Regions from separate parts of the Homo sapiens genome. Here region 2 is linked to region 1. The links come from fine-mapping of genetic effects on gene expression. A gene starts in region 1. The other region holds a variant in brackets. All regions are shown on one strand. Distances are between the middles of the regions.

What was found.
Region 2: its variant is fine-mapped to the expression of LINC02236 in blood mononuclear cells (TOPMed, PIP 0.90).

The regions. Positions count from the first base shown.
Region 1 is chr5:6,791,058-6,807,209 of GRCh38, forward strand. LINC02236 (long intergenic non-protein coding RNA 2236) reads left to right here and starts at 4,823. Exons shown (of 2, transcript NR_146281.1): 1 at 4,823-5,288. RefSeq lists an enhancer at 12,710-13,210.
Region 2 is chr5:6,775,378-6,790,838 of GRCh38, forward strand. LOC102724943 (splicing factor 3A subunit 2) reads left to right here. Exons shown (of 5, transcript XR_007059141.1): 3 at 1-652; 4 at 1,673-1,781; 5 at 1,957-3,820. Among named protein-coding and RNA genes, the nearest start is that of LINC02236, 13 kb to the right of the region's middle. The variant T/C (reference allele first, on the strand shown) is at 11,063.

The sequences.
Region 1 (16,152 bases):
AGCAATGGCTATTTCCAGCCTTCTCCCTGGACCTCTGCAACCACAACCCCATCTCCTCTCCCTGCTCTGATAACTCTGCTGCAAAGAGAGGAGCAGCAATCAAAATAAAATCCCTGCAGCTCCAGGGCCAAACGCACCAGCCGCCGGGTGTGGTGCCTCATCCCTCCCCTCCCTTAGGGGAAGTGCTGGTCTCACCTGCAGCTGCTTCTCGCGTCCCCACAGCCTCATTCATCCCCTCCTCTGGATCCTTCCCGGGAGCACACACACGTGCTGTCATGTCTTTTATTGCAAAACCAACAACCCTCCCTGGCCCCTGCACCCCTGTCTAGATTGTGCCTATGTTTCCTGCCGCTCTCACAGCAGCGAGGTGTTCACGCCTCACTGCCCCACTTCTCTCCTTCTCTCTGCAGCCCTGGCCACGCTTTCCCATCACCTCCTCCAGGTGGGTGCAGCAGCAGAAGGAAAGGCTGCTTGAAGTTGGTTCAAAAGAAAAGAGGAGGGGAGGAATGAATTTCTGGCGTTGAGACCTAGTAACTGTTTTCAAGGACATAGGATGGTTGCTGGAGGGGAGAAGGAGTATCAACAGAAGTCTATTTGGAATTTCTTTTTTTTGTGTGGGAAGATGCACGTAAAATAAAATTTTCCATTTTAATTATTTTTTAGGTGTACAAATTTATTAGCAATAACGACCTTCATAATATTGTGTACCCATCATTAGTATTTCCAAAACTTTTTAATCATCCCAAATGGAAATTCTGAACTCATTAAATAATCCCTTTCAGCTGCCTCTCCCCAGTCCCTGGAAACCTCTAATCTACTTTCAATCTCGGAATTCGCCTATTCTAGATATCTCAGGGACATGGAACTGCAGGAAACGTGCATGGATCAGGTGCAACCTGCTCCATCTGCTTGTTCTTCTATGAGGTAAGGGTCGTCCACCTACATAAAACAGAGAGAGGCTCTCTGAAAGCAAAGATGATTATCTGGGAAGAGAGCATTGCAATGGGAATATGCACATTTTAGTAAACTATGCCTGTATTCAGGGAGAGAAAGGAAGGCAAAGGTTTTTTGAGGGAAAAAAATGAAGAGGATTACTTCTTTTGATATAATTATGCTTGGCTACAAAGATCAACAGCAAGGGTGATAGCAGTCTGAGGTTGGACAGGCAGCTGCTGGACAGATGTCCTTGCAGAAGTGTTTTTTTTGTTTGTTTGTTTGTTTTTGCATAAGGTTGCAATGGTCTTTGAGCAAGGTTGTGATTTTTTGGGGGTTTTTGTTTTTTTGTTTGTTTGTTATCAGGCATATGGTTTTAGAACCCGCTGTTCATGGCTTCCCTGGCTCTATTTGTGAGAGTTTTCTTAACATCAGTGACTCTGTTTGGATTCTGAGAACTTTCACAGGACAGATGCTTTCCCAGTGGATGGGCTTGCAGATTTGGGGGTCAGTTGTTTCCGAGAAGGGGATGAGCTGCCCCTTTGCTCCCTTGCCTGAGCCGTCTTCTCTCACTCTGCATTTCCAGTACCGTGGCTGGGATCTTCCATCTTTATCCATCTGACTCCAGCAGCTTTTTCTCAGTTCCAAACTGGCCGGGGGTAAAAGTGAGTGTGATGAGCTCTCACAAACCCCAACAATTTAGTGCTTCACACCTGGCGGGTCCTCACTGAAAGATGGCTGAAAAAAGGAAAGGGTGAATGAGCAAAACACAGCTGTATTTTATTTAGTTTTCCATCTTTTATGATTTTAATGAAAGACTATCTAGAAAGCAGCAGAGTAGTTAATAACACACGTGGTCTCTGGAATCCGAAACACCTGTATCCAAACCCAGATGCTCTCTCTAACCTGTGAGATTGCTCAATGGGGCCGAGCCTTTAGTCTCTAGATGGTAAAATATTAGCAAATGGCTTGCACGTGTGATGTGCAAGGACTAAACAAGGCGTGCCTGTAAAGTGCTGAGTGTTCTGTAACTGGTAGGCACTTACTTTGTGTCACCTGCCCGCCTCCAAGGAATCTCATTTCCTAACTTGACAGCTGCCTCCCGGATCCTGCTTGGACAGATCCCACTAGGGAGGTCCACACCTGTGAGAGCGGCAAATGCATTGTTGTCGAGCTCTTCCTATAGGTAGAGGAAACCGAAGATGGGGCATAATGACTTCCTGGGAGTGGCGGGAAAGGCCCAGACGCTACCTGACATTATTTGTGGCTGCAGTTGAAGATCTGGGTGTGCACCTCCAGCCTGTGCATCGGGACTCATGGCGCAGCTGAGTCAAAGCCGTGCCTCTGCTGCCAGAACGGAGATCTTGACTAAATTTATCCTGAATTTCTTGCTGTGCCAGATCCATTCTGACTTTGAACTTTAAGAAAACAGCTCCTTGGGTTATGCAACTGGCACCACTGAATGTGAGCTGGGAGGAAGTGACAGGAAATCTTGTAAAGAGAACGGAAGAGCATTTCTCCCCAGCTCCGAGGCAGGTGGTGTTGGCAACTGCAGGCAAGGTGGGGGGAGTGGGTGGTGCGGCCCCCTCACCCTCACTGAGCCTCTCTTTGGGCTTCTCCTCCTCCCACATCCCCTCTGTGCTGAACAAAACTCACCACTCCTGGGCCCATTGCTTCAGGCTTTGCAAGGGGTCTGGCGGAGTAATCTGAAACAAATTTAAGCAAGATATGGGTGCTGTAATGATTTGATGCAGTCATTAGACTCACCTGGGGAGCTGGTAGAACTATTGATGTGGAGCCTCATTTCCAGAGATTATAAATTAATTAGGCTGGGGGTGAGCCTGGGTATCAATATGTTTTAAAGCTCTCCAGGAGGTTTTGCCGTGCAGCCAGGGCTGAGCTCCATTGATTGGAGGCATTGTCTTCCAGACGATATTTGCAACAGCGGAAGCTTGGGAGCCTCATTTCCAGATCTGTAAACTGAGGGGCTTGGCGTATATGATTTCCAAGATCTTCTAGTCCCAAAAAGGGTCATGATTCTGGTATTCCAGTGCCTTGAGCCAAGTGTCTTCCCATTGCCTGTGGGTTTCCTAATGGTGTTTGAGGCCACAAAAGCTTCCCCAAAATGGCATTATAATTTTGGCTGTGTTACATTAGCATCCTCCTACAGGGAGATTTATAAATTCCTATTGAGCTCATTTACTGATTGTTTTCCATGGGCCTATTTATCAAATGTACAGCCCCATGAATTTTCACATGCTAAATGCATCCATGTAACTAACCACCAGCTAGAGCAAGACACAGGATATTGCCAGACCTCAGAACACCTCTTTGGAGTTCTTTTCAGTCACTATCCCCTGCCCCTCAGAATAATGTTTACCCTGACCCCTCTGATATGGTTTGGTTGTGTCCCCACCCAAATCTCATCTTATATTTCCTATAATCCTCACATGTCATGGGAGGGACCTGGTGGGAGGTAATTGAATTATGGGGGCAGTTCCCCCATGCTATTCTTGTGATAATGAGTAAGTTCTCACAAGATCTGATGATTTTCTTTTTTTGAGATGGAGTCTCTCTCTGTCACCCAGGCTGGAGTGCAGTGGCAAGATCTCGGCTTACTGTAACCTCTGCCTCCCAGGTTCAAGCGATTCTTGTGCCTCAGCCTCCCGAGTAGCTGGGACTACAGGCGTGCACCATGACACCCGGCTAATTTTTGTACTTTTAGTAGAGGTGGAGCTTCACCACGTTGGCCAGGCTGGTCTCGAACTCTTGACCTCAAGTGATCGGCCCACCTCGACCTCCCAAAGTGCTGGGATTATAGGCATGAGCCACTGCACCCGGTTGATCTGATAGTTTTGTAAGAAGCTTTTCCTGCTTTTGCTTGGCACTTCTCCTTGCTGTCGCCCTGTGAAGAAGGATGTGTTTGTTTCTCCTTCCACCATGATTGTGAATTTCCTGAGGCCTCCTCAGCCCTGTAGAACTGTGAGTCAATTAAACCTCTTTGCTTTATAAATTACCCAGTCTTGGGTATGTCCTTATAGCAGCCTGAGAGTGGACTAATATACCCTGTCACTATAGATTGGCTTTGCTTGGTTTTGAACTTGACATACATGGCATCACACAGCATCTGCTCTTTTTTTTTTTTTTTTTTTTGAGATGGAGTCTCACTCTGTTGTCCAGGCTGGAGTGCAGTGGTGCGATCTCGGCTCACTGCAAGCTCTGCCTCCTGGGTTCACACCATTCTCCTGCCTCAGCCTCCTGAGTAGCTGGGACCACAGGCGCCCACCACCACGCCCAGCTAATTTTTTTTTTGTATTTTTAGTAGAGACAGGGTTTCACCGTGTTAGCCAGGATGGTCTCGATCTCCTGACCTCGTGATCTGCCTGCCTCGGCCTCCCAAAGTGCTGGGATTACAGGTGTGAGCCACCGCGCCCGGCCAGCATCTGCTCTTTTCTGTGTGGCTTCCTTCACTTAGCTATGCCGCTGAAACTAATTCATGTTGTTGCAGCCATCAGGAGTTCATTCTTTTTCGTTGCTGTGTGCTATGGACTGAATATTTGTGTTCCTCTCTAATTCATGTCTTGAAGCCTAAATCCTCATGTGATAGTATCAGGAGGTCATGAGAACAGAGCCTTTATGAATGGGATTAGTGCACTTACAAGGGGATGAAGAGACCAGAGCTCTCTCTCTCTTTGCCATGTGAGGATACAAGAAGATGGCCACCTCCAAACCAGGTGAGAAGCCCTCCTCAGACATGAATCTGCTGGCACCTTGATCTTGGACTTCCCAGCCTCCAGAACTGAGAAATAAATATTTGTTATATAATCTGTCCAGCCTATGATATTCTGCTATAGCAGCCTGAACTGACGTAGATACTGTGTCATACTCCATTGCACGGGAGATGTATCCTTTCTCTTGTTGATACACATTTGGATTGTTTCCAGTTTGGGGGTATTTTAAAGCTGCTAGGAAATTCTTGTTCTCATTTCTAATTTTTAGCAAGTAATATTAACTTGAATTTGTTTCATCAGACCTTTAAAATGCAGGTTTGAACATTTAGGAATATTGTACAGGGAATGGATCCACGAGACATCTGCTTGTTTTTGATGCAGTGTGAAGAATGCATGATCATTGCATTCACATTGAGTTGAGCTGGATGGTTGTAAAGATATGCTTGGCCACTACTGAATTACCTAAAAATTAATTCGTACCAGGCAGGAGCAACTGTGGCATTGCCAAGTCTCATTCCCAGCCCTCATGTCCTAGAAGATGAATGGGATGGAGCCAGAAGTGATGTGTAACATGGGATGGAAGCAGAAGATAGATTCCACTGCTAAAAACTGCATGGATTATGGGTGTGTATTCCATAATACACAAAGGTGACTCCACAGACTCTCAATTGTGCTTGTTGCTCAGGCCAAATCCTGCCTTTTGAAAAAATAGCATGCGTGTTTACAGATAAATTTTGAAAGCCCGTAGTTAAAGCTAATGACTGTATTATTTTCTAGATTTCTCCGGGCTTGTGGCTGTGTTGGGAAAAGTGGATGGGCCTTGACTCCATAAGCTAAGCTGAGTTACTTGTTTAACACAGGAAATGTGTGGAACATTGTTAGAAGCAAGAGCAGAGCTAAATTTTCTTCTGCTCCCCACACTTCTCATTGCTTCCATTACCACCCATTGAATGGGCAATGCTGTACCCCATGGTGTTGGCTTCTGATGATCTCGATCTACGACCCTTCCTCTTCGCTTAGATTTTAATTCTGAGATTGCCTGTATCTTGATCTGAGTAATAGCTCTCCAGTTCAAGGAGAGGGTATTGGAGTGGATTCCCTCAGCGTTGAGTTCATTGGGAACCATCCAAGGAGCAGCCACCAATAATCTCACTGTGCCTCCCAAGAGCATGGTTCTGTTGAGCACCTGCCAGGGATGGCATGGGGATGGCTAGGGCTGGGCATGGTCTAGCACACTCTTTATTCTTCTTTCTAACCCTTTCGCAGTTGAGAGCATCTTGAGGTTATCTGGCCCAACCCCGATAGCTCTGCATTTCATCTCTACTTGCACACCCACTGTGACAGAAAATTCTCCACTCAGCAAGGAGTAAATTGCATTTTTTTAGATGTCTAATTGCATTTCAAATAACAAGCTTCCGTTCTGCCTTCTGTATCCACACAGAGAGCCTTGTCCCTTTTCATGAGTTCCTTTTTGGACATTTTCAGCCAATTAAAAAAAATCTCACTTTCATTTTCTAAATTGTCTCCTATTCAAGTTTATCTTTCCCTGCTCTTTCTATTCCTTCATGGTAGGATTTCTAGACTCAACCTTCTGGGTAGCCCTTTCCTGGATGGATTACGAGTTTTTCAAAATAACTCTGTTAATGAATGTATAGTCTTCTAACCATATCACGCACACAATACACACACAAACACCTTTCACTTACTGCACAGTGCACATATAACACACATACAGTGCAACACAGACATATACCACATATACACCAAAGAATACACACACTACACACACCACGTAATACACTACAATACAATGAAACACAATGCCACATGTGCCACACAATACACACACACCACACATACATACACAACACACAGATATACACAAATATGCACAGACATCCCTCACACACACCAAATGCATATTACACACACTCACATACATAATAACACAGATCACCTAGAAATAAACACAATCACGTTATACATACACACCCCAAATACACTCCACACACCTTCCTTCCCTCAGTCCTTCTTTGTTTGCATCTCTTCAAATAATTGCAAACTCTCCTATCAAAAAATTGCAAGGCCCGTGAGAACATTAAAGATAATATATAACTGCATTGTGATGGGTAAAATAAATTTATGATGTTGGAATCCTATTTGTTCAGCATTCTAGCCATGAAATTGAAGGATGTCACACATTTTTCCCTTACTAAACCTGTAAATGAATCATCTAAAGATAATAAGTCATTTTTATGGAGTAAGACTGCATAGTGTTGCTTCACTTAAATTTAAAGATGATGTGAGACATAATGAATTTCCAGTTGTGAACACAGGTGCAGACACTCATCACAGTTTGAAAAAAATAAGTTCTTAATGGGATTCATGATATTCAGGTTATCTTACTAACTTCTCCAACTTCTTCCCTTTTTATTTACATTTTATTGTAAAATAAATCATAGACACAGAAAAATCCCACTCATAATAAATGTATAGCTTAGCGAATTATTTCAAGATGGAAGCCCTTGCAATGATAACTCATATCAAGAAATAGATCTTTGCCATTTTCCCCAAAGAATCTCCATATATATTGTCCATATTGCTAGTTTGAGTTTTTATAAAAAATCATGAATGAGTGTTGAATTCTGTCTAATGTTTTGCATTAACATGAAAGCATGATTTTTCCCCAGTTTTTTTCCTGATGATGTCATGAATTAGACTGATTGCCTTTAAAAGCAAAACTGTTCTTCCAGTCCTGAAATAAACCCTATTTCTTCATAATATGGTATCTTTTGTATATATCACTGAACTTACTATGCTAATATTTTAAAATAATTTTTGAGTATATGTTCTGAGAGAGATTCATCCATAAAAGTTGGGAAATATTTCCTCTCCTTATAGTCTTTTAATAGTCTAATATATTACTTGTTATTTGTTCCTGTGAAATGAAAAATCCACCTGTGCCTGGGTTTTTTTGTGTGGAAATATTAATAATAAATTCAATAATAATCTACTGAAAAAACTGAATAATAAATTAATTATTGTAAATTATATAATAATTTCTTTAATATATATCAGACTATTCACATTTTCTATTCTTCTGTTAGAATTGGTAAATTGTATTTGAGGAATTTATTGATGTAATCCAGATAGCCACATCTTCTGGAGTAAATTTGTTCATAATATTCTTCTATCTTGTTAATGTTTGTAGGATCTGTAGTTATAGTTCATTTTTTCTTTCTTATTAGGTAGTTAGTGTTTTATTCTTGTTCAATTTTCCTAAAGATTTATCATTTCAAAGCATAACTTTTGACCTTGTTGATTTTTAAAGATTTTTAAAAAAATTTACTGAAATTCTGCTCTGTTCTTTGTTTGTAATTTTCTTCCTTTTGCTTTAATAAAGCATATAAGGTTACAAATTTCCCATCTTCTGTTTCCATGATTTCCCCTCCTACTCCCCATCCCCTTCCTTCTCCTTTTTTTGATGGAGTCTTGCTCTTTCGCCCAGGCTGGAATGCACTGATGCGATCACGGTTCACTGCAGCCTCCGCCTCCAAGGTTCAAGCAACTCTTCTGCCTCAGCCTCCTGAGTAGCTGGGATTACAGGCATCTGCCACCATGCCCGGCTAATTTTTGTATTTTTAGTAGAGACGGGGTTTTGGTGTTTCACTATGTTGGCCAGGCTGGTCTTGAACTCCTGACCTCAAGTGATCTGCCCGTCTTGCCCTCCCAAAGTGCTGGGATTACAGGCATGAGCCACCATGCCTGGCTTGTTATCTGCTTCTAAGATTTCTTTTGAGAAGTCAGCTATTAATTTTTTTCTTTTTTTTCTCATTCCAAAGAAATGTGTTGTTTGTTTGGCTGATTTTAATATTTTCTTCTTGTCCTTGATTTTTAGAAAGCTGACATCGATGATGTATCTAGGTGTGATTTTCTTTATATTTATCTTGCTTGAAGTTTGCTGAATTTCTTGAATGTGTGGGTTGATGTCTTTCATCAGTTTGGAATGTTTTTAGTCATTATCTCTTTGAATATTGCTTCTCATTCTCTCTCCTCCCTGGTAATGCAATTATATATTGTTTAGACATTTTGAATATATCCCTTATTTCTCTTAATTTCTTAAAATCATTTTTTTCTTTTTAGTTTCTTTCCTTCAGTTTGGGTATTTTTCTATTGCATTGCTTTCCAGTTCACCAGTTTTATGTCCAATCTACTGTTAAAACTATTCATTGCATTCTTAATTTTGGATATTATGATTTTAGTTCTATAGTTTATTTAAAAAATAATTCTAATTCTTAATTGCAAATTGCCATTATTCTATTTATATTGCCTCTCATTTCCTCTATTTTCTTGAATATATTAATCATAATTATTTTAAAATAATTGTCTATTGTATCTAGAATTTGGGTCACTTGTGAACCTAATTCTGTTGTTTGCTTTTAAAAACATTAAAGCACATTGAGCCTATGGTCTTATCTTTTCACAGATCTAATAATTTCTTGTAAGCTGAATATTTTGTATAAAAGACTGTAGAGGTTCCAATGATGTTCTTTTCCACATGAAAGTGTTTTGTGTCTCCTCTCTAAGGCAGAGGAGGTTGATTCCCAAGGGCCAACCATTAGGGATTGGTGTAGTTTTGATCAGACTCAACCTACCTCTGTTCTCAGGGCTTTATCTGAGAGCTTGGAAAGTCTTTGCATCCTGAGTTCTGAATGATTGTGGGTGATTCAGCTTGGCCTTAGAGAAATTTAAGCTCAGCACTCACACTCCTGACCTCGTCACCTTCAGAATTTGGCAAAGGTCTTGATGGAGAGAATGCTTGGGTTGGATGCCCTACCCGCTAATTTTGTCCTTGACAAACACTAAAGTCTTTGCTTTGTTTTCTGTCTCCAGCAGCAGCAGCCTCTTGCCAGGGGCTGAGCCTTGATACCCACATTTGTCTGGTGCCCCCAAAAGAGTGGCTGCAGATCCTGGTGTCAATTCACAGGCTTTCATCTTGTGCTGGATTTCTTTTCAGGTTCCTTCCCTGGGAAGTTTTTTGTTTCCTAGTCACAAATATTGACAGAAATTTTACTTTGCCTTTCAGGAACTTTTAGCCTAGCTCTTTAGGCCTCCACTCCCCTGACTACTCAGCTAAAAAAAAAAAAAAAATCAAATGTCTTGTGGGTAAAATCAGCTATGCATTGCAGGGCCCTCACCTGAGATATGATTTGTCACCCTAGCCCTATGGCACCACTGAAAGCTTTTCTGGTTTTCCTTCCTCTAGCGGCGTCTTCTACCTGACCTAAATCTGATCACTGGGCTTCTATTTAACAGTACAGGAAGATGTTTCCAGGGAAAAACAGATGCCAACCATCATCTCCCTCTTACTGGCTTTTCTCTCTGAAAGTTTAGTTTATTTATTCTTTGTTGATTCCACATCTCTCCAATGCTTCGAAAATGATTTTTTATTCTTTTGTTTCTTAGTTCCTGAGATCAGGGGCATTGGCTGTTACCTACTACTTAGAAGTGGAAGTTTGGGGCACATGTTTTGACTTTCTTTTTCATAGTTTGTTGACTTGATTTGACATCAGTACACTCTGTACCCTATGGCAGGGAACCCCAAACCCCAGGCCAAGGACCAGTCTGGTATGGTCAGTGGTCTGTTAGGACCTGGGCCACACAGCAGGAGGTGAGAGGCAGGTGAGTAAGCGAAGCTTCGTCTGTCTTTATGGCCACTCCCCATTGGTCACATTCCCGCCTGAGCTCCTCCTGTCTGATCAGCAGCAGCATTGGATTCTCACAGGAGCTCGAACCCTATTGTGAACTGTGCATGCCGGGGATCTAGGCTGTGGACTCCTTATGAAAATCTAATGCCTGATGATCTGTCACTGCCTCCTATCACCCCCAGATGGGACCATCTAGTTGCAGAAAAACAAGCTCAGGGTTCCCACTGAATTCTACATTATGGTGAGTTGTCTAATTATTTCATTATATATTAAATGTAATAATAATATAAATAAAGTGCACAATAAATGTAATGTACTTGAATCATCCCGAAACCATCACCCCTGACCACAGTCCATGGAAAATTATCTTCCACGAAACTGGTCCCTGGTGCCAAAAAGGCTGGTGACTGCTGCCCTATGGAATCACTCGGGATTTAAAACTTTTACTTGTAAATGTTAAACGTTTTGCATCAGAGGCATCTTCAGTGGCCACAGGCTGGAACGTTTCCTCCTTAAGCTGAGTAGTCCTTAAAACAATGGAACCTGTGTAACTAACTTCATTGCAATTATAATGGAATTCTCAAACTTTGGGACACTTATAGCACAAATTTGGGGCATGATTTCTTAAAGATTCTCCATGCCATTGTAAAGTAATGGTGTGGCTAAAGTATCCCATCAGGGTCATGTCCTCATGTCCTTTGATTACTACAACTCCTGGCATTTAGGAGTTTTTTTTTTTCTTTTTTTTTTTTTAAGGCATGAAGGTGAAGGAGGGCTTCAACTGGGAGTTTTGAGCTTTTGGTGTGTGTAACTTACTAAGATTGGTGAGGGATTAAGTATTAGGCTAGGGAAGGAAGAGAGGGAGTCAGATGCAAGTCTTCCCAAGCTTTCTATGTTGATCCAATCAGTTTTCTTTTCCTTTAAGTTTTTTTCTCTCTTCAGGTGGATCATTGAGGCACCAGCATATGCCACTTTTGATTCTGGGTTCCACTGATAGACTGGATAAAGAAAATGTGGTACATATACACCATGGAATACTATGCAACCATAAAAAAGAATGAGATCATGTCCTTTGTAAGGACATGGTTGGAGCTGGAGGCCATTATCCTTAGCAAACTAACGCAGGAACAGAAAACCAAATACTGCATCTTCTCACTTATAAGTGGGAGCTAAATGATGAGAACACATGGACACATGGCAGGAACAACACACACTGGGGTCTAGCAGAGGAGGGCAGAGGGTGGGAGGAGGGAGAGGATCAGGACAAATAACTAATGGGAACTAGGCTTAATACCTAGGTAAGGAAATAATCTGTACAACAAACCCCCATGACATAAGTTTACCTACGTAACAAACCTGCACTTGTACCCCTGAACTTAACAGTTAAAAAAATTTAAAAAGGGTTTTTCTGTTTCAATTATACGTCAAGAAGAGCTGCTCTCATTACCTGTGTCACAGGCAAATGAAAGCTTTGTTTGATTACTTAAGTAATCCAGGAGAACATGTAACTCATCATTTTCAGGAAGGTGGTCAGTGAAGAGAAGAGGAAGAGAGTAGAAGCTTCTTTTAGGATGGAGGAGAAGAAGACAGTTGGAGTGGGACAAGTCCCATTTGATGGTGTGTGGTCGCTACAGCAGGTACAGTGAAGTGGCTCCTGTTTTGGAAATGAGGGAAGCTCCGATTCCCCTGAGAGAGTAGAAAAAGGTCAGGATGGGTGCTAATGGGATGCACTAGGTGGAGGGCAGCTGGGAAGCTACCTCTGTGCTTGCACAGTCTCCTCAGATGGGAATTATTTCTCTACTTCTGTCATATTTGTCTTGGTGTAACTGAACCCGCATCTTAAAATTCCCTGATTACCTCAGTTGGAAGTGAGTTCTCCTACATTTGCGCTCCTGAAACACGTGAGAATATTAGTTGTTCTGAATGAGCTGTTACTGTACTCACGGGTGGTACAGTTTAGAGAGGGTGACGTGTTTGTTATGAGTATGGGCTCTGGACCTAGCCTCCCTAGGCCCAAATCTCCGTTATCTGCTTTCACTCACTGGACCTAGGGCAAGTTAACTTTTCTCATCTGCAAAATGGACTAGATCTTGAAAGCAATGTCAGTGCATTTTGTGAGGATAAAACAAGTCACTGCATTTATTTGATTAATGTGTACAAAGCACTTTGAGTACACTGAGTACTCACTAATGCTAGCTGCTACATTTCCTACTAGTGTAATTGAACGAATACACACACTTAGAGTATATTACACTTTAAATAAACGTTATCGTATGTACTTGATTGTCACTATTTGGTGATAGAGACCCTGTCTTCCTTGCAGTGAAGGGCACCATAGTGGCTAAACTTAGAGTTACTTTAGAAAAACCAGGTGTTAGGGTGCCCCCAAGAGCATTGCCAGTGTGAGGGAACAGTATCAAAGAGGACTTCACAGATGACAGTTAAGGTTTCAGGTCCACATAGGTCTTAACTATAAATTGTGACAGCGTAAGGGCTGAAGGTCTGAGAGTGTGTGTGCTCACTAAGAGGCTAGGGGTTTCAAGTTTCCTGAAATAACTGCAAGAACTGCGCAACACAGAGAGAACCTACAGGGAAAGAAAGGAAGGGGCCGGGAGCTTGGACTCACAGTAAGGTCCTGGGATGGGGATTGAAAACCAAAAGCAACTGTGATGACACTCTGCTGCAGCTGGTGGGCAAAGCTGGGAAGAGCCGGAACCCTGGCTTCCTGTTCCACCTCCATAGGACCCATCCCTGCTGCTCCATGCCCTCTCTGAGGATCCACCAGTGCAAATGGTCATCTCAGCCTCCTAAGAGTCAGCCCTCTTGTGAATCCTCCTGCAGATACAAACAAGGCTGGGATGTTGCTTGCCCTTCAGTTGGGGGTTGTCTCAGGCAGAGGCCCTAAGGGATGGTGGTGACACCAGGCCAGACGGGAGAGCCTGGCTGTTTGCCTGAGAGTTCCAGCTTTGCCCCCAACAGCCATGAGACAGCTGTTCTCATGCCAAGAAAATGAATTTATACAGTGAAGTAAATCAAATTGTAAAGAACAATGTGATTAGAGAAAAAAAATCGTTTGTTATCTTGCAGTCCCCGGACATGATATATTCGTGGCCCAGGACCTTTTAAACAAAGAAATAATAAGAAACCATTTAGAAAAACAAATAAACTGGCAAATGTTTGTGAAATATTTATAAGATGCAGAGCCATTTTACATGCAAGAATTTATTAGCTAATTTTTTTTGTCTTGTGAAGGACTATTTTTGGAGACAATGAAATTGTTCTGGAAAAATACTTAAATTGGTAAGGATTAAAAACACACAAGAAAGCCAAGACTTTAATTACTATTATGATTTAGTTATATTTTTTGGGGAAAAATTATGCAAATCTATTTGTACTTTTAATCTTTTGTCAACATTTTCCCTATATTCATAAGTTATCCAACTTATCAAACAGAAAAAAGTCAGATGTATGAGGGGAAGAGATCTGGCTCAGCTAAAATTACTTGGTCTCTAACTCTGTGATGATGTGAGACCTTAGGAATCTCAGACTTGCTGTATTAGTGAGTAAGTAAAAATCCTGGGTTTTAGAACATTTAAAGGAAATGGTGTTTATTCTCCCTTATTCGTCTCACTTGGCAGTGGAATTATTGCAATTTCAGGGCAATGTACTTGAACAGTGATGTTGGCAAAAGGGAGTAAGAGTAGACAGGATAGTGAATGATTAGAAACCATTTTGCAGAGGGAGCAGTTGAAGGAATGGGGTTCTTTACACAGAGAGCAGAATACTGAGTGGGAAGCCATAGGCCAGCCCTCCAATGTATGATGGTTTCAATGTCCTCCTTCTTTCTCTGTCCTCTTCCCAGGAGGGGCGCTTGACCAGATGGGTGAGAGAGTGCAGAGCTTTGTGCATAGCAGTGCAGACAAGTCGTGCAATAGGGTGTGGTCAAAACGACCAAGAAACAGGATTGCGTGTCATGTGGGTGCTTCAGCTTGAGGAATCTGGAAATCCTAAAACATCCTTCAATTTTCCAGAGGACTTGAGATGTCTGTCCTTTTTGAGATGGACAGGTTCCCCTGAGAGCTGTCTCACGGTGGTCTACAAAGGGGGCACAGCAAGATGGACTTGGGAGTTTCTGTAGCTCTGCCGGCCAAACTCCAGCCAGGGGGAAGCCCATGGAAACTTGCTGGCAGTCCCAGCCTCTTAGAGTGATCCCCTGGGAGCCTCCCAGACTTTTTAAAGGGCGAGTTTGAGGAGAAGAAAGACATGTCGCTCCAAATTAGGCCACCAGTTTCTCTGCTAGTTCACTGCAACACTTTGTACATTTCCAGGTCATCTCTTACATACGCTGGAGATGTGTGATGGAGCTTGATGCTAATTAGCAGGCTAGATCTGTGATGTTTTTATTAAGTTGGGTCACAAAGTGTTCAATGCCTCTCTCTCTAGAATGATGATGCACTCATCAACCTGTCCTAAGTTCTGCGGCTTTAGCCAAAATTCTTAAAGAATAGGAAAAGTCCCACTTCACACCGTGTTCCATCAGGCTTTAACTGGTCACTGTACTGCTTGGTACAACACTCTGTTCATTTGTGTGAGTAAATAGAAGTAAGAGTCATTGAACTCAAGGAGATATAGCACTCTATTGAGGCTTGAGTCTTAGCAGGTGGTACCTTGGCAGAGAAGTGATTTCATTCTTAGAACTTTTAAAGGAAGTTTCTGGGAGAGTCACCTCTTGGGTGGAGGTTGGGTTTGATCTCAAGGACTTTGTGTTTGAGTTTATAGGACTCTGCCTAAGCAAACATAGAGCTGTCTAGCCTAAGTGGTGTTCTTTGATGCACACTGGGACTTTCTTGATCGGTTATTAAATGTAATTCATTGTTATAAATGTGCCCTTGACAAAAATGGATGTTCTTTAACTTTTGAATATAGAACTCTGTATCCATCCATTAGGGAAAGCTTGTCAATTGTATTGTTCAACTATTCTTGCTGAATTTTTTGTCTGATTGATGTATCAATAATTGTCATAGTAATCCAATATGATGGTGAATTTATCAAACTTCTTTCTGCAGTTTTAACACTTTTTGCTACATCTTGTGAGTGTTTTCTTAGGTCCGTACATTTGACAAAATTTCTTTTTGTCATTTCAATAAACTGAGTCTTTTCAAATTAATGTAATGATAATCTCTATCCCTAACTCTTCATTTTGTCTTAGTATCTCTTTTGTCTAGTATTGATGCAGCTGTATTAGCTTTCTTTCTGTTGGTAGCCATTTATGTCTTTTATTTCTTGAAACATTGAACCATATAAAATTGGCAATATCCATCCTTTTTTGTCCCACAAAAATGGCAATTTCGTATGGCTGAACCAATGCTGTCAAACTGCTTTTGCATGCCCCTATGCTTTAAGTGGGTCTCTTGTATACAATATGTAAACCCTTCTTTTGATCTTTGTCTTTTAACTATGACTTTAGCCCATTTACATTTACTGTAACTACTGGTATAATGGGATCCATTCTACCATACTAATTTATTATTTTTGTTTGCTTACCTTTCTACATTTTAAAAAATTGCTATTTTTTATTTATTCGATAATAAGATAGAACTTTTGTGTGCCCTCATATTCACTGGTGTCATCTTCCCTACAAACATTGCCATCCTATTAATATTTTCTATCTTAGGGATGGTGGCTTATGGAACTTTCTGTGATGATGGAAATGTTCTATAGCTATGCTGGTCAATATAGTAGCCACGAAGGGCTATTAAACCCTTGAAATGTGGCTAGTG
Region 2 (15,461 bases), 16 kb before region 1:
ATCAGTTGAAGACTCCCGTGCTTCTGGGAATAGTCATTGTGAGCATGTGGTCAGCCCGGTTGCTAGAATTCTTCCCATGAGCAGGTGGGGTCCAGGAACTTCAGGGGCTGACTGTGGCCTCATGCCCAGTACCTTTAGCCATTTTAATTTACCAAACCTCATTGTCCCATTCTCTTTTCAGGTTCTTGGCCATAAAATATGGCTTTTGGAAAAATAAAGCTGAGACTTGGAGTTCACGGTGGGGGCTCCCCCATCTGTGAACAGAAGCAGAAGTTTGGAACTGCCTTCTTTACTGCTCGAGAGGGAAAACTTGAGTGAAAACCAGGATGCTGGCGAATGTTGAGTAGCTAAGCTGCACAGGAAATACCACTTGATGACCTGCGATCTGGGGAAGCCGCGCCAGGGCTCTGCGAAGCTGCGGACGAGGGAGGCGTCAGTGTGGGGGCTGCAGCTCAGCTCCGGGGGGGACGCGCCTTTCTCCACGGGACCTGGGGCTCAGGTGCTCACGAGGCTGGGGCGCTGCAGGCCACCCGCAGGGGAAACTGAGGCCCTCCATTTTGTGGGGCTGGAAGACCTTTCCTTCCAAAAGCAGGTGTAGGCGGGAGCACCTGTGCAGTCCCTCTGTTCAGATCCTCACCCACTTTTAAATCAGGTAATTGCTTTTCTTGTTATTGCATTGAGTTCCTTATGTATTTTAGATATTACCCCCAAGAACATTTATTTTAAACACTAGCTAAAGCTCTCGTAAGAACTGATGTCTTATAAGGTAAAATACTGGTTTAAGAAAGAAGTTGATAAAGGGACAGCACCAGACAAAGAGTGGCAGCACCAACAACCAGTGCGAGGGCTCCGTTCAGAAGGATCTGGATGGTCGCCTGGACGTGCTGCCGTGTCATGTCTTAGGTGGTTAGTCAATCCACATGATGGTTTTAAGTCAAATTCCCAGCTTTGGGACCAACCCTATCCCCCACGGCAATCCAAGAAACCCGATCCAGGACTCTTTCCACTGGGAGTTGTCAGAACTGTGTCTTCATCCAAGACAATTGGTTTCCCATACTCATACTTAGAGGGAACCCTGGCCCCTTTAAGGTGGGGCTCCCTCAACTTGGGACTCGTTACTCCTCAGTTCAGCTCCCCTGCCATTGCTGGCCTCCTTGACAGAGTTCAGAGGATGCGGCTCCATCCTTCTCCCTCTGTCCCAGCTTCTTGTATGTGAAAACAAACCAGGGAGGCTGGAGGCCCTGAGTACATTTTTTTGAATTCTGGGCAGCAGCGTCGGTGGCCTCGGTGGTGCACTGTGTTCAGGTGGTTAGCGGTCATGCTGATCTGTGGTGATAGTGCTTGTTGGCACCACAGTGAGAGTTCATGCTCTCGCGTGTTTCAGAGATGGTGGGAGGTGCCCACAGGCAGGTGAGGAAACATCCTCCCTGGAGAAAAAGGCAGCAGGAGAGCATCAGGAAGCTGGCAGAGCTGTCTGCTTCCACTAATCTTTACTATTGAGAGGCCCTGGCTCATTATACAAATTGGGCACACGGCAACAGTGCTGGGATCAAAGGCAGTTGTATTCTGTCATCCCATGGCATCGCCGGGTACCCTTCATTTTACTCCTGAGGCTGTAACTTGGACAAAGCGCTTTCTGCTGCTTTGGATGAAAAATTCTTTTCCTCCACAGGAAACAGCAGATGAAATGCACAGTGTGAAGGACAAGGATTCTGCTGAGAGAATTGCTCCGAGGGTTGCTCAAGTGATCATGGGAAATAATGCATCAAACCATTCTTTAGGTATTTTTTTAAATTAGGAGGTAAAAAATCTGTGCTGTTTGCCAAAATGATTCTTACACAGACAAGCTAGGAAAATTGCTCTGAAACATGACACAGACTCCTGATTTGGCCCAACTAGGGTGTGAAGGATGAAATCCATCCTGAGCCCTTCATCCCTCTGCTTTCTCTGGTGCAGATGCAGCTCAGGTGTGCCTTTTCTTCGCCTGTGCCCATCCACCTGAGATGGACCATAACCATAAAAGTCAGAAGGCACTGACCCTTCAGGACGTGACAGGGTTAAAAGATGCTGGAGGGAAAGTCTGTCATTGACTTTTATTCACTTCCTTTCTCCATTCTGCCATTTGGAAGAAGGTAAGCAACTTAACACTATTTTAGACCATATGTTGTAAACTAGCAGGAAAATGCCTTTGAGCTGATGATGGTGGCCCGAACACAGTGAACCTGTCTTAAATCCCTGCTTTAAACCCTTAAGGGTGTCACTTACAAGAGATACTATTTGAAGTCTTCCCATGCATGTGTAGGGTGGGGGGAGTACCAACAGCTCATCGAATGGGCTCCATTTGAAAGATCTGGATGGTTGCCTTTATTTGTAACTAGTTTCTTTTCTTTTTTTTTTTTTCCTTGAGATGGAGTCTTGCTCTATCACTGGGCTGGAGTGCAGTGGCGCAATCTCAGCTCACTGCAACCTCTGCCTCCCAGGTTCAAGCGATTCTCCTGCCTCAGCTTCCCGAGTAGCTGGGACTACAGGCATGTGCCACCACACCCAGCTAATTTATGTTTTATTTTTTAGTAGAGACAGGGTTTCACCATGTTGGCCAGGATGGTCACGATCTCCTGACCTCATGATCTGCCTGCCTCGGCCTCCCAAAGTGCTGGGATTACAGGCGTGAGCCACCGCGCCCGGCCGTAACTAGTTTCTTAGATGACAGCTCAGTCCACAGGATTGAGTTAAGTCAGCTTCCCAACTTTGGGGCTGATCCTGTCCTCATGGCAACCTAAGAAAGTCCACCAAGGATGTTGTCCATTGGAAGTTGTCAAGACTTTGTCCTCATCCAAGACAATTAGCTTCCCATACTTATATAGAGGGACCCCGTCCCTATCCCCAAAGTGGCTTCACACTCCTTAACTCAGCTGCCTGCCTGGAACAGAAGGAGAGTTGCTGGCCTCACTGACAGAGCATGGGGCTGGTTGACAATTCTAAAAGCCTGGCCTGTTCCTCTGATTGGCTACTCAGATAGGAGAACCAGAGCAGTAGCCCAGGCTGATAATCAGGAACCTGGGGCCCTGGAGTTACCTGCTGCTCCTGGTGTCTGCTAGAGCTCCCTAGACATCTTTTTAGATGGAGGTCTGTGGCTCAGTGTGCCATCACGCTGTCCTGTTGGCTGCAGTCTCAAGCTGGGACAGAATGATCAGACTGAATGCTTGTGTCTTCCCCAAACTTGTATGTTGAAACCTAATCCCCAATATCAGTGTGTTTGGAAGTGGAGCCTTTGGGAGGTGGTTAGCTCATGAGGGTGGAGCCCTTATGAATGGGATTAGTGTTTTTGTTGTTGTTGTTGTTTTTGAGATGGAGTATCACTCTGTCACCAGGCTGGAGTGCAATGGCGCGATCTCGGCTCACTGCAACTTCCGCCTCCCAGGTTCAAGTGAATCTCCTGCCTCAGCCTTCCGAGTAGCTGGGACTACAGGCACGTGCCACCATGCCCAGCTAATTTTTGTATTTTTAGTAGAGATGGGGTTTCACCATGTTGGCCAGGATGGTCTTGATCTCTTGACCTCATGATCTGCCCGCCTCAGCCTCCTAGAGTGCTGAGATTACAGGCGTGAGCCCCCGTGCCTGGCCTTGAATGGGATTAGTGTTTTAAAGAGGCCTGAGAGAGACTCCTGGCCACTTTTGCCTTATGAGGACACAGTGGAAAGGTCCCATCCCTGAACCAGGAAATGGGCACTTACCAGACACTGAATCTGCCTGCAGCTTGACCTTGAACTTCCCAGCCTCCAGAACTCTGAGGAATAAATTTCTGTTATGTGATAAGCCATTCAGTCTGTGGTATTTTGTTATACCAGCCCAAACGGACTAAGACACAGAACATAGCCTGTGCCTCTTCCAGTTTCTTCAGGATCCTTCTGGGCTCAGAGAATGGAGCTAAGAGGAAGATTCTACCATTAGGGCTGGTCTTCACCTGTCTCTTAAGACTGATGGGCTCCCCATTTGAATGACATTGATCAACCCGACATTAACCCATTGGGTATGGCTGGGGCAGCTCCTCTTATCTGTGAGGTGGGAACCAGGTTGGTAATGTTGCATCCTGTTAGCCAGGTTCCTAGTTCAGTTTAGCTGTTGTGCAGGTCAAGGACTCTTAAGGATTGAATTGCATCCCTTCAAAAGATATTGAAGTCCTAACCCCCAGAATCGGTGACTGTGACCTTATTTGGAAATGGGTCTTTGCAGACACAATCAAGTTAAGATGAGGTCATATTGGATTAAAGTGGTGTGTAATTCAATAGATGATCTCTTTAATGAAAAGGGAAATTTGTACTGAGAAACACAGAGGGAAATGCTATGTGAAGATGGAGGCAGAGATTGGAGTGATTTGGAGCAATGTGTATGTCTGCAAGCCAAGGAACACCAAGTATTGCCAGCCATCACCAGAGCTGGAGGAGGGGCCTGGAACAGATTCCCACTAGAGCCCCCAAAAGGATCCAACCCTGCTGACACTTTGACTTTGGAGTTGTGGCCTTCAGAACTGTGAGAGAATTAATTTGTGTTGTTTTGAGCCACTCAGAGTGTGGTATTTTGTTATAGAAGTCCTTGGATACTAATAAAGACATTAATAGCCAGATCGGAGGCACCCCCTCCAAGGCCTGAGAGAAGGTTGTTTTATGGAACCCTGGTTTAGTAGCTGGGACCACAGATGCGTGCCACCATGCCTGGCTATTTTTTTAAATTTTTTGTACAGATGGCATCTTGCTGTGTTGCCCAGGATTCTGGCTAGGGACTGTGGTTGCAGGTGCTGGGGCTAATGAAAATGGGCAAGAGCAGAATAGCACAGTAACATCTATTCTCTAAATCGACAATCTTTTCCAGACTACGGTTTAAGAATCTGTGCCCGATGAAGCTGAAGGGGGCCTCAGAACTGGTCTCGTGGTCCTCCTCTCAGCTCTGAGGTACTTGTGGCTTGTGGCAGAGCCGCTATGGACGTCGCTGACCTAGTGGTCAGTGCATACATCTGCAGAAAGGTCACTCTACATTCAAGTGAACCAATAGAGTGTCTAGAAATCTCAATTCATGGTGTGTGGGGGCAAGATGCCCATTCTGACCCTTTAAGGGGGCATCAACATTTCAGAGGGTGGTAGGAGTGGTGATGAGTCCTCCTTAGGGTGAAAGTTCACCCCTTTGGGCTACTAGAGGGCAGTCATTGGTATAATTTCTCTATTTTAAGCATTCTGATGTTTGATTACAACTTACCCATGGAAGGCTGAGTTTGTAGTTACTGAACCTTTCCAAGGCTGGGTAGCGTGCCTTCTCTCCCGAATGCTATGGAGTTCTACAGTGTGCCAGCATCTGTTTCTGTAGCTCCTTCTTTCATCACTGATGGACGTTTAGATTGTTTCCAGTTTCTACTACCACAAACAGTGCTTCAGTGACCATCCTTAGCTGTGGCTTCTTGTGTATGTGTGAGGATTTCTTCAGAATCAGGTCTCCACCTTGGACACTGTCCATATATTGGGCCAGATAATTATTTAGTGTTGGGGGTGCTGTCCTGTGCACTGTAGAACGCTTAGCAGCACTTAGCAGCATCCCTGGCCTCCACCCACTAGGTGTCAGTAGTGTGCACTACTTATCACCACCAAAAATGTCCCCACATGGTGTCAAATATCCACTGGGGGAAACATTGGCCTTCCCGCCTGTTCAGAACCATTGGGATAGATGAAAAATGTGAGGCGGTGTTTTTTTTGTTGTTGTTTTTTGTTTTGTTTCGTTTTGTTTTAAGACAGGGTCTCGTTCTGTCATCTAGACTGGATCACAGTGGCATGATCACAGCTCACTGCAGCCTCAACCTCCTGGGCTCAAGTGATCTGCCCACTTCAGCCTCCCCAGTAGCTGGGACCACAGGCGTATGCCACCATGCCCGGCTATTCTTTTTTTATTTTTTATAGAATGGCATCTTTGCTATGTTGCCCAGGCTGGTCTCAAACTCCTGGCCTCAAACAATCCTCCTGCCTCAGCCTCCCAAAGTGCTGCGATTACAGGCATGAGCCACTGTGCCTGGCCAAGAGTGAGATTTATGAATCAAAAGGTGCTATGATTTGAATATTCATCCTCTCCCAAATTCCTGTTGAAATTTAGTTTCCACAATGGCAGTATTAAGAGGTGGGACCTTTAAGAGATGATTGGAATAATTCATTCATGGATTAATGGATTAATGAACTAATAGATTATCATGGAGTTATAAGAAGAAGAGAACTTGAGCTTGTACTCCCAGCCCCTCGCCATGTGGTCTCCTGGGCCAACTCAGGACTCTGCAGAGAGTTCTCCATCAGCAAGAAAGCTCCTCACCAGATGTGGCCCCTTGACCTTGAATTCTTCAGCCTTCATAACTGCAAGAAATAAATTTATTTTCTTATAAATAGCCCAGTTTCAGGTATTCTGTCATAAGTAACAGAAAAGGGACTAAGACAAAGGGAATGCATGTTGAGTGTAATACACATGCTGAACAGTCATACAGGGGCTGGGCACATTCCACACTCCTGGAGGCAATGTCTAATAGACATTCGACACCATCACCATACTTACAAGCCATGCTGATGGCTGAGACAGGGCGAATCATTTAGTTTTGGGTTTGATTTTCTTAATTATTACCTAAACGTCTTCTCATGTTTATTAGTCATTAGAATTTCATTTATTATGAGTTACCTATTCAGTGTCTTTGTCTGTTTGTCTATTCTTCTTCTTATTGATGTTCAGAGAAAATATCCAAAATATTTGACAACCATGAGGGCACTGGATCTTCAAATGTCCAAACACCTGCCCCCATAGGATGGACACCAGCTGTTTACACCAACACAGGAGTCCTGGGTGCGGTGAAAGAACATCTGCCATGTGGATTTGTTGCTGTTCTTAATTTACTATGGAAATTAGCCTCTTGCCTGTGATAGAAATCACACGTATTATCTCTGAGTAGTCCCATGTCTTAAAGCTTTGTTTGTTATTTAAATTTCAAAGTAGACAAATTGAGATGTCTTCTCTTCCTTTATACATTTTATTTTATTTTATTTTTATTTATTTTATTTTATTTTCAGATGGAGTTTCGCTCTTGTTGCCCAGGCTGGAGTGCCATGGCAAGATCTAGGCTCACTGCAACCTCTGCCTCCCGAGTTCAACCAATTCTCCTGCCTCAGCCTCCCAAGTAGCTGAGATTACAGGCATGCACCACCACGCCTGGCTAATTTTTTTCGTATTTTTAATAGAGACAGGGTTTCACCATGTTGGTCAGGCTGGTCTCGAACTCCTGACCTCAAGTGATCCACCTACCTTGGCCTCCAAAGTACTGGGATTACAGGCGTGAGCCACCACACCCAGCCTATACCATATTTAGAATGTCTTTTCTACCTTAACATTCTCTTTTATGTTTTTTCCCTTATTGGCATTTTTTTTTTTTTTTGTATTTAGGACTTTAATTGAGGTGAAACATATTTTCTGATGAATGCTGTACTGGTAGGGATTTAACTTGCCAATGCCAAACTTCCAATGCCAAAACCATAGTAGCGGGTCAATTTAACAATCGTTATTTATTCTTGAATGAACAAATAAATGAGTTTCTAGGCTTTATCTCTCCACGGATGGTGTCGCCCCTTCCTGAATTGGCACGTCCCTGTACCTTTTAGGAAGTCTGGTAGGGTGCACAACCATCCCTCTTCATTCTTTTCCTTTAAAGGTTCTGACTATTGTTACATAGTTCCTCTTCCATATTACTCTGAGACTCAGCTTGTCTAGTTCCATTAAAATCTTTGCACTGCTGAATCTTTTCATTTTTGAATACAATAAATCCCACAACATAGTCAGGTCTTTTAAATGAGTTTGTCAGTAAGGTTTTATAGTTTTCTCTGTAATCTTGAACATTTCTTGTTAAGTTTCTTTCTCGGTTTATTATAGTTTTTTTATTATATATGAGATTTTTCTATGCATTTCTAATTGGTTCTTTCGGATGCATAGGAAAGTTAATGGTTTTAAAGATATTGATCTTGGCTGGGTGCTGTGGCTCACACCTGTAATCCCAGTGCTTTGGGAGGTCGAGGCGGGTGGATTGTCTGAGGTCAGGAGTTCGAGACCAGCCTGACCAACATGGTGAAACCCTGTCTCTACTAAAAATACAAAATTAGCCGGGCATGGTGGCAGGTGCCTGTAATCCCAGCTACTTGGGAGGCAGGAGAATTGCTTGAACCCAGGAGGCAGAGGTTGCAGTGAGCCGAGATCACGCCATTGCACTCCAGCCTGGGCAACAGAGTGAGACTGTCTTAAAAAAACAAAAAACAAAAAACAGAAATATGTATATATCTTGTCTAGCACACTGTTCATAGCCAGTGTTTAAAATATGACACCTTGTTTAAGTGCTATTTTCTAAAGACAGTTGTGTAGATTTTTAAGAGGCAGTCGCAGTGGTTCATTTTATATGTTAACCTGACTGGGGCAACGAATGCCCAGATAGCTGGTAAGACAGTATTCTGGATGTGTCTGCAAGGGTATTTCTGGAAGAGATTAGCATTGCAATCTGTAGCCAAATGAAGATTCCCTTCCCCCATGTGGGCAGGCATTGTGCAATTCACAGAGGGCCCAAGTAGAAAAAAAGGCTGAGAAAGGGGGAGTTCATTCTCTGCTGGAGCTGGAACATCCATCTTCTCCTGCCCTCTGGTATCAGACCTCCTGGCTCCCTCCCTTTCCCCTACCTCACTTCTCAGGCCTTTGGACTCAGAGACTGAATCACATCACCAGCTTTCCTGGTTCCCTGGCTTGTAGATGGCAGACAGTCTGACTTCTGGGCCCCCAGAATCACATGAGCCAATTCCCATAAAAAATTTTTCTCTCTCTCAAACTCTCTTCCTCCTATGTATGTAATATATCCTATTGATTCTGTTTCTCTGGAGAATCCTGATTAATACACGGTCTGAACTCAGAACATCACGCGTGTCCATACAGTGAAGAGTGTTGCACAAAGTGGCAGAGTGAATGGCACAAGCAGCCAGAAATTGCTTGTCCCTGGGAAAGAGCTGGAATGAAATGCTCCCCCAGGCTGGCCAACTGTGCTGTGGCTACCTGGGCCTCAGGGGAGGAGGGAGCAGTGGAGAGAACCAGGGCCCTGTGAGCAGGGAGGTCCAGGTTTCCTCCAAAAGAGGAATGTGGAGGCAGAATGGAGATCACATTGGGGCTGTTGCTTCCAGCTCTTCTGGAATCTGGAAGCACTCAAGTTGGTGGCTGTGTCTGGCTAAGGTTTCAGATGAGCTAAGAAGCGGAAGACAGTCCACTGTTGCCAGTCCCTTTAGAGAAGGAGGGAGCCAGGCTGAGAGGGCAAATCTACTGACCCAGGACAGCTGGAAGCTAGGGAGGGACGAGCTCCCGTGCATCGCAATAGATGCAATGGACGTGACGTGCAATCATCGGAGTCAGGGTTTAAGGCTGGGCTGCTCCACCTCTTCTGAGTGCTAAGAATCCCCTGGAATGTTTTCTAAAAACGTGGTTTCACTCGTTTGATCCTAAAGATTATGATGCTGGAGTCTGGGGGCAAAGCTCAGAGCTCTTTATTTTTAACAAGCATCCCAGGTAACTCAAAAGTAGCAAATACTGGTTTAATGTGCATTATCTTTGACCATTTGCAAGTGGGTTCTTAAGTTAACATAGTAAATTGAAAGATGAGACAGGTGCGACACATTATTCAGGGAAACCCTTCTGTTTCAAAGAATGACTGCTTGGCCCATCTGACTTGTGGTGGTAAAGGCAGGAAGATGAAATAAAGCACCCAGTGTGTGCAGTGTTTAGCATGAATGAAGTTAGAAGGAATGAAATCTACGTACAATTTGCCTACATAGCAGCTGCATGAAAGTGAGCTGGCTTGTGATACGGCAGCTTAGAAATAGGGCAGCTTAGAAAACCAGATTGGTGGGGGCAAGCAGGTGAAGGGAGGCCGGGGGTCCCCCATGACCTATACTTCCTTTTCCCTTTGCAAGCCCTAACCTGCTGCTCCTCCAACCCTTGACCAAGGGAGAGGATGGGCTCCCTGGGGAGGGCTGAATGAGGGTGGAGCATGATGTGTGTGTGTGTGTGTGTGTGTTGGGTGGATGTGTATATGTGAGGTATGTTGTGTGCGTGGTGTGTATTGTGTTTGTAGTGTGTTTATGTGTGCTGTGTGCTCTATATTGTGTGCATGAGCATGTGTGCATGTGTGTAGTATGGTGTGTATTGTGTATATGTGTGTGTTACGTATGGTTTGTATTGTGTATGTAGTTGTTTATGTGTGGTGCGTGCTATGTATTGTGTGTATCAGCATATGTGCATGTGTGTAGTATGGTGTGTATGTATGTGTGTGGTGTGTATTGTATATGCAGGGTGTGAATGTGTGTGTGGCATATTGTGTGTGTATGTATGTAATGTGTGTGTGTGTTGTGTGTGTATGTGTAGTGTCTGGTGTGTATTGTGTGTATAATGTGCGTGTAGTGGGCTGTGTGTGTGTGTGTTGTGTATGTAGTGTGTAAGGTGTATGTGAGTGTGCTTGTGGCATGTATTGTGAGTGTGTGTCTCTAATGTGAGGTTTGAAGGGCCTCACAGTTATGCCCACAAAGGTCACTTGGTCTTTCCTGGAGACGCCTCATGGGAGTTTTCACTGTGGCTTCCTGCCACTTGCTGTGGTCTTAAAAAAAGTAAAGAGAGTTACAAATCATTCCTTGTTTGCAGCATAAATTGCAGATGATAATTCAAATTCCTGCATCAGGTGGAAAGTAGCAGATTTAAAACACTGCAAAGAAGGGGCTGAGCAGTGAGACGGATGCTTTGGAACAATCGAGAAAGTAAGAGCCAGCTGTAAGGTTGCCTGCAGCCATGGAGCAATGAAGTGTCAAGGTCAAAGATCCCCCCAGGTCACGCAGTCCTGCCACTCTCCCTCCCTCTATGGCCCTGCGCACTTCCAGTGGCATAGCTAGGGTGGATGAAGGGGACACCTCTGACCACATCTCTCTGCCCTCTGACTCAAGTCCTTCCTGCTATAATGAAATCCCCCATGCTCCCTGAG[T/C]TTGGCATCTACTTAATCAAAGAATGTGGAGACTTAGTTCTCAGGAGGGCCGCTACTGAGTGGGTATGCCACTGGTCAAGAGGGTAACAGGAGACAGAAGACCCAGGAGGAGACTTTGGCCTAAATGGATCAGCAACACCACAGAGCATCCACTCCCCCAGAGCATCACCCGGAAGGACCATCCGTTCGGAGACATCCTGGGAGAACAAGAGGTTTCTTGTCTGACTCTAAAATTTATTTTATCAGTGTATCTAGGATTGGGCTGAGTTTAAACAGAAAACCTTTAAATAAGCACTATATGCCTGCTAGACATATTAATGCAATAAAAGAACCCTGTGTCTTGCTAAACTAAATTCTCAAAAGTTAACATTAAAAAATGATTCACGGCCAGGTGTGGTGGCTTACGCCTGTAACCCCAGCACTCTGGGAGGCCGAGGTGGGCGGATCACTTGATCCCAGGAGTTTCAGACCAGCCTGGGTAACATGACAAAACCCTGTCTCTACTAAAACTACAAAAATTAGCTGGACATGGTGGCACATGCCTGTGGTTCCAGCTACTTGGAAGGCTGGGGTGGGAGGATCACGTGAGCCTGGGAGGTCAAGGCTGCAGTGAGCTGTGATTGCGCCATTGCACTCCAGCCTGGGCAACAGAACAAGACTCTATCTCAACAAAACAAAACAACAGAACAAAACAAAACAAAAAAACCAAAACACACACACACACACACACACAGAAAGCGATTCACTTATTTTTTTCAATATAGACCACTTTTTAAACTTTTTACTTTGAAAAAAATAATGAATTCACAGGAAGTTGTGGAAAAGCACCCTGTGCCGTTTACTCAGTTTTCGTGATGATTACATTTTACATAACTACACTGCAATGTCAAAACCAGGAAACTAACATTGATACAGTGTGTGTATGGTTTTATGCCATTTTTTTTCTTAAAATTGTTTTTTCTTTTTAATTATCATGGATATACAAAGAAATGACATGCCATTTCATCACATGTAAATTTGTGGACGTTTTAACTTAGAGCAGGGGTCCACAGACTGTTGCCTGAGTGCCATATCCAGCTGGCCTCTGGCTTTTGAGAATAAAGATAAAGTCTCGGAACACAGCCACGCTCATTCATTTGCATATTGTTCGTGGCTGCTTTTCACTCCGGTGGTGGAGCTGAGTAGTTGTGTTGCTCGCAAAGCCTCAGATATTTCCCTTTTGACCCTTTATAGGAAAAGCTTGCTGATCCATGATTTAGAGAATCATTGGAATTTTTTTAATCTAAAAAAATCCTTGGGGTCCCTATAGTCTAGCCCTTTTATTTGATAGAGGAGGAAGCTAAGCTCAGGGCAGACAGAGGACATGTCCCAGGTCACACGCCAGTCAGCACCAAGTAAATCTATGGCCAGGGTCTCCTGACCTCCCTGCTGTTCTGGTCTCAGCAGGGCACTCAACTGGCCACTGGACCATTAAGCTGGATTTTATATTTTGAGCATGTTTGGGAGTTGGGCAGTTGGGTAAAGTAGTCCTCAACACAAATATTTCTTCTAAATTTCTTTTGTAGCTTGAATTCCACTGGGCAATCTGTTTGCTTATTTTCTTATTTGACTAAAAGAAAACGTGTGTCACAACATTAAAAATGGTGAAATGAGGCCATAGACCAGGGCTGCAACCTCAGTGTCCTCAGGCAGCCGATGTAAATGAGCGAAGCAGGAGAGGAACCTGCCCAGGGGCTGCAGGGCAGGGTGGGGACTGTGGCAAAGGGCATGCCCGAGGTGACCCAGCTCCAGTTCATTGTTCCTACATGTGAATGCAAGGCAAGAGTGGCCAGATTGGATTTTCAAGTGACCTTTTCTAATATTTAAATGTTAGCAACTACTTAAAAAATCCACAGACCCTGAGCAGTTCAACCTTGGCCCCAGGTTTCCCATTTACCACAGTTTACTCTTGGTTTGGCCTCAGGGATCTTATGAATTTGAGCCATCAGAATCAAGGGGTTGACTGAGAGGACAGGGATGGTGAAGATCCCCATCGCCACTCCAGTTCAATCTCTGGTGGAGGAAGGGTCATCTTCACAGGTGCGCCATGGCCCAGCGTTTCTACACGTGCTCACCTACCACTAGGTGAGCTCCCAAGGAAGCCGATGGCTCAGGCTGTACTGACCTCTCCCAGGGAAACAGTTGCTTCCCTGAGACCTTCTTACTAAATACACTTCCTACATACAAGAGCTGTCATACCCTCAGGTATGTAGGCGTGACCAACACTTAGTGTTCTCAGTAGGGGAACACTTGGTAGTACCAAAGACATTTTTGGTTGTCACAACTGGGGGCCTGCTGCCGGCATCCAGGGTGGAACCTGGGAATGCTGCTAAACACCCTACAATGTACAGCACAGCCCCCACCCCCAACAAAATACAATTTTTCTCTGGCCCCCAAACTCAATGGTGCCCAAGTTGAGAGACCTTGATCTAGAGCAATGAACCCGACATTTGTAGTTATCCAAGATGAGGTGCTCCAAAAAATCACGGGCCAGTGTTCAGTGAACATCGAACGTGGTTGGTGGGCTCTAGATATTCAGCCGAATTCAGGATTTCCTAACCTCCTGCTGCGGGTGATGCGTTCAGAGCCCATCAGGAAAGGTTGGTAGAGCGGAGAAACCTGGCCCAGAGGGATTCCGCACTGATACGGGCGCACAGGAGGCCGCACGGAGGAGGGAGTGGCGCCCCTAGAGGGAGCCTCAGGATGTAGCTCCTGAACCCCTTTAGAATTTTAATTCTCTAAATGAAAATGCCTATTATTTTTGAAAGGATTTGCTTAAACTTCTTATCTGAAAACAGTTACATTGCAGGGATCAATTTGTTGAAAGTGAAAGCAAAAAATCCAACACAAAGAGTAAACTGCCTCTTATCTATGTGTGAGCAGAATGCTGGAGGGGGGATTTGACTCTCCTGGCCTCAGTAGCGGCCCTTCTGAGAACTGTATGCCCAGTTCTGCCTGTCTGCAGGATTTCATCACACTGTGTGCAAGAAACCAAAGTGGGAGGAGAAGAGACATTTCGGTTCAGCCCATTTTTCCATTCTCACTAAGTTTGTAGTGTAAGAAATAATTGTAAATTTTTCTTTGACTTATATACTGCCAGTGAGACAAGGAAGTCATTTGAGGAAAATGTAATGGAAAAAGGAATTTCATCCATTTCCTCAAGAAAATCACTGTGTGTGTGCGTACATGCAGGTGCCTGCACTGATTACAGAAAATGTGTGAAAGAAAAAAAATCTTTCCATTGGAGCTTCAAATAAGCCAAATATTAACTGTTCACTTACTGGCTACTAACAACAGTTTTGGGGTTTTTCAAGGACGGCTGTCTGTTTGGAGGAGTAACTTTAATCAGTACAGCTGACCACGATATCAGCCATTAATTTCCAACATTAGCTTAAATCCTGTTTCTGATTATAAATATAATGTACATGTTCATTATAGCACACTTGGAACATACAGAACAATTATAAAGCAGAGTATCAAAACTACCTGGAATCCTGACATTGACAGATAAACCACTGTTAAGCATTGGTATATTTTAGGGCATGGCTTAGTAAACTATGGCCTGTTGGCCAAATCTGACCTGTTGCCTGTTTTTATAAAGTGTTCCTGGAACTCAGCTGTGTTCATTACTTTTTGTATGCTGTTTTCAAGATACAATGTCAGAGAGACCATGTGGTTGCAAAGCTTAACATATGTACTATCTGGCCTTTTATAGAAAAACGTTTGCCAGTCTCTGCTTAGGGAAGTCTTTATCATGTGTGCGTGTGTGTGCGCGTGTGTGTTTGCATGTGTGTGTGTGGGGGGCACATATGATAGACCCATTAAGTTGATAGGTTCGGTAATCATAGTGAGGAATCTCTAGGAAGAACAAGTTTCAAGTTTTCTGGGGACATAATGAATGGTTTTGGTTATGCTGAGTGTGGGAGAGCTGGGTGTGTGTTCCCAGGGGAAGCAGGAGCATGGTCTGAGCTGGGGCAGAGGTCCAGGGCTACAGCCTCGCTTGGTAATAGTGGAAGCTGTGGACACAGGGGGACAAATGTTCAGGGAGAAAGAAAAAGATCAAAGTTGGCTATGGGGAATATGGTGTGGTGAGCTGTTCGTATGCAGGAGAGGGACGATGAGAGAGGGAGAAGGCAAGGAGCCTCGCATCCCTTGTGGAGGATGGCGCCCAGCAGTGACAAAGGCTTCAAAGAGGAGGACTGAGCTAGTGGGTGTGAAAGGGCCCCTGGACTTGAAAATCATCAGGTAGTTATAACTCCTGCGCTCACGCACAACAGAAACACAGAAACGTTCACCAGAGTGGGGTGGGGAGGGAGTACAGGGGAGCCAGTGTGTTTTGGAAGGTAATGGGTATTTCATG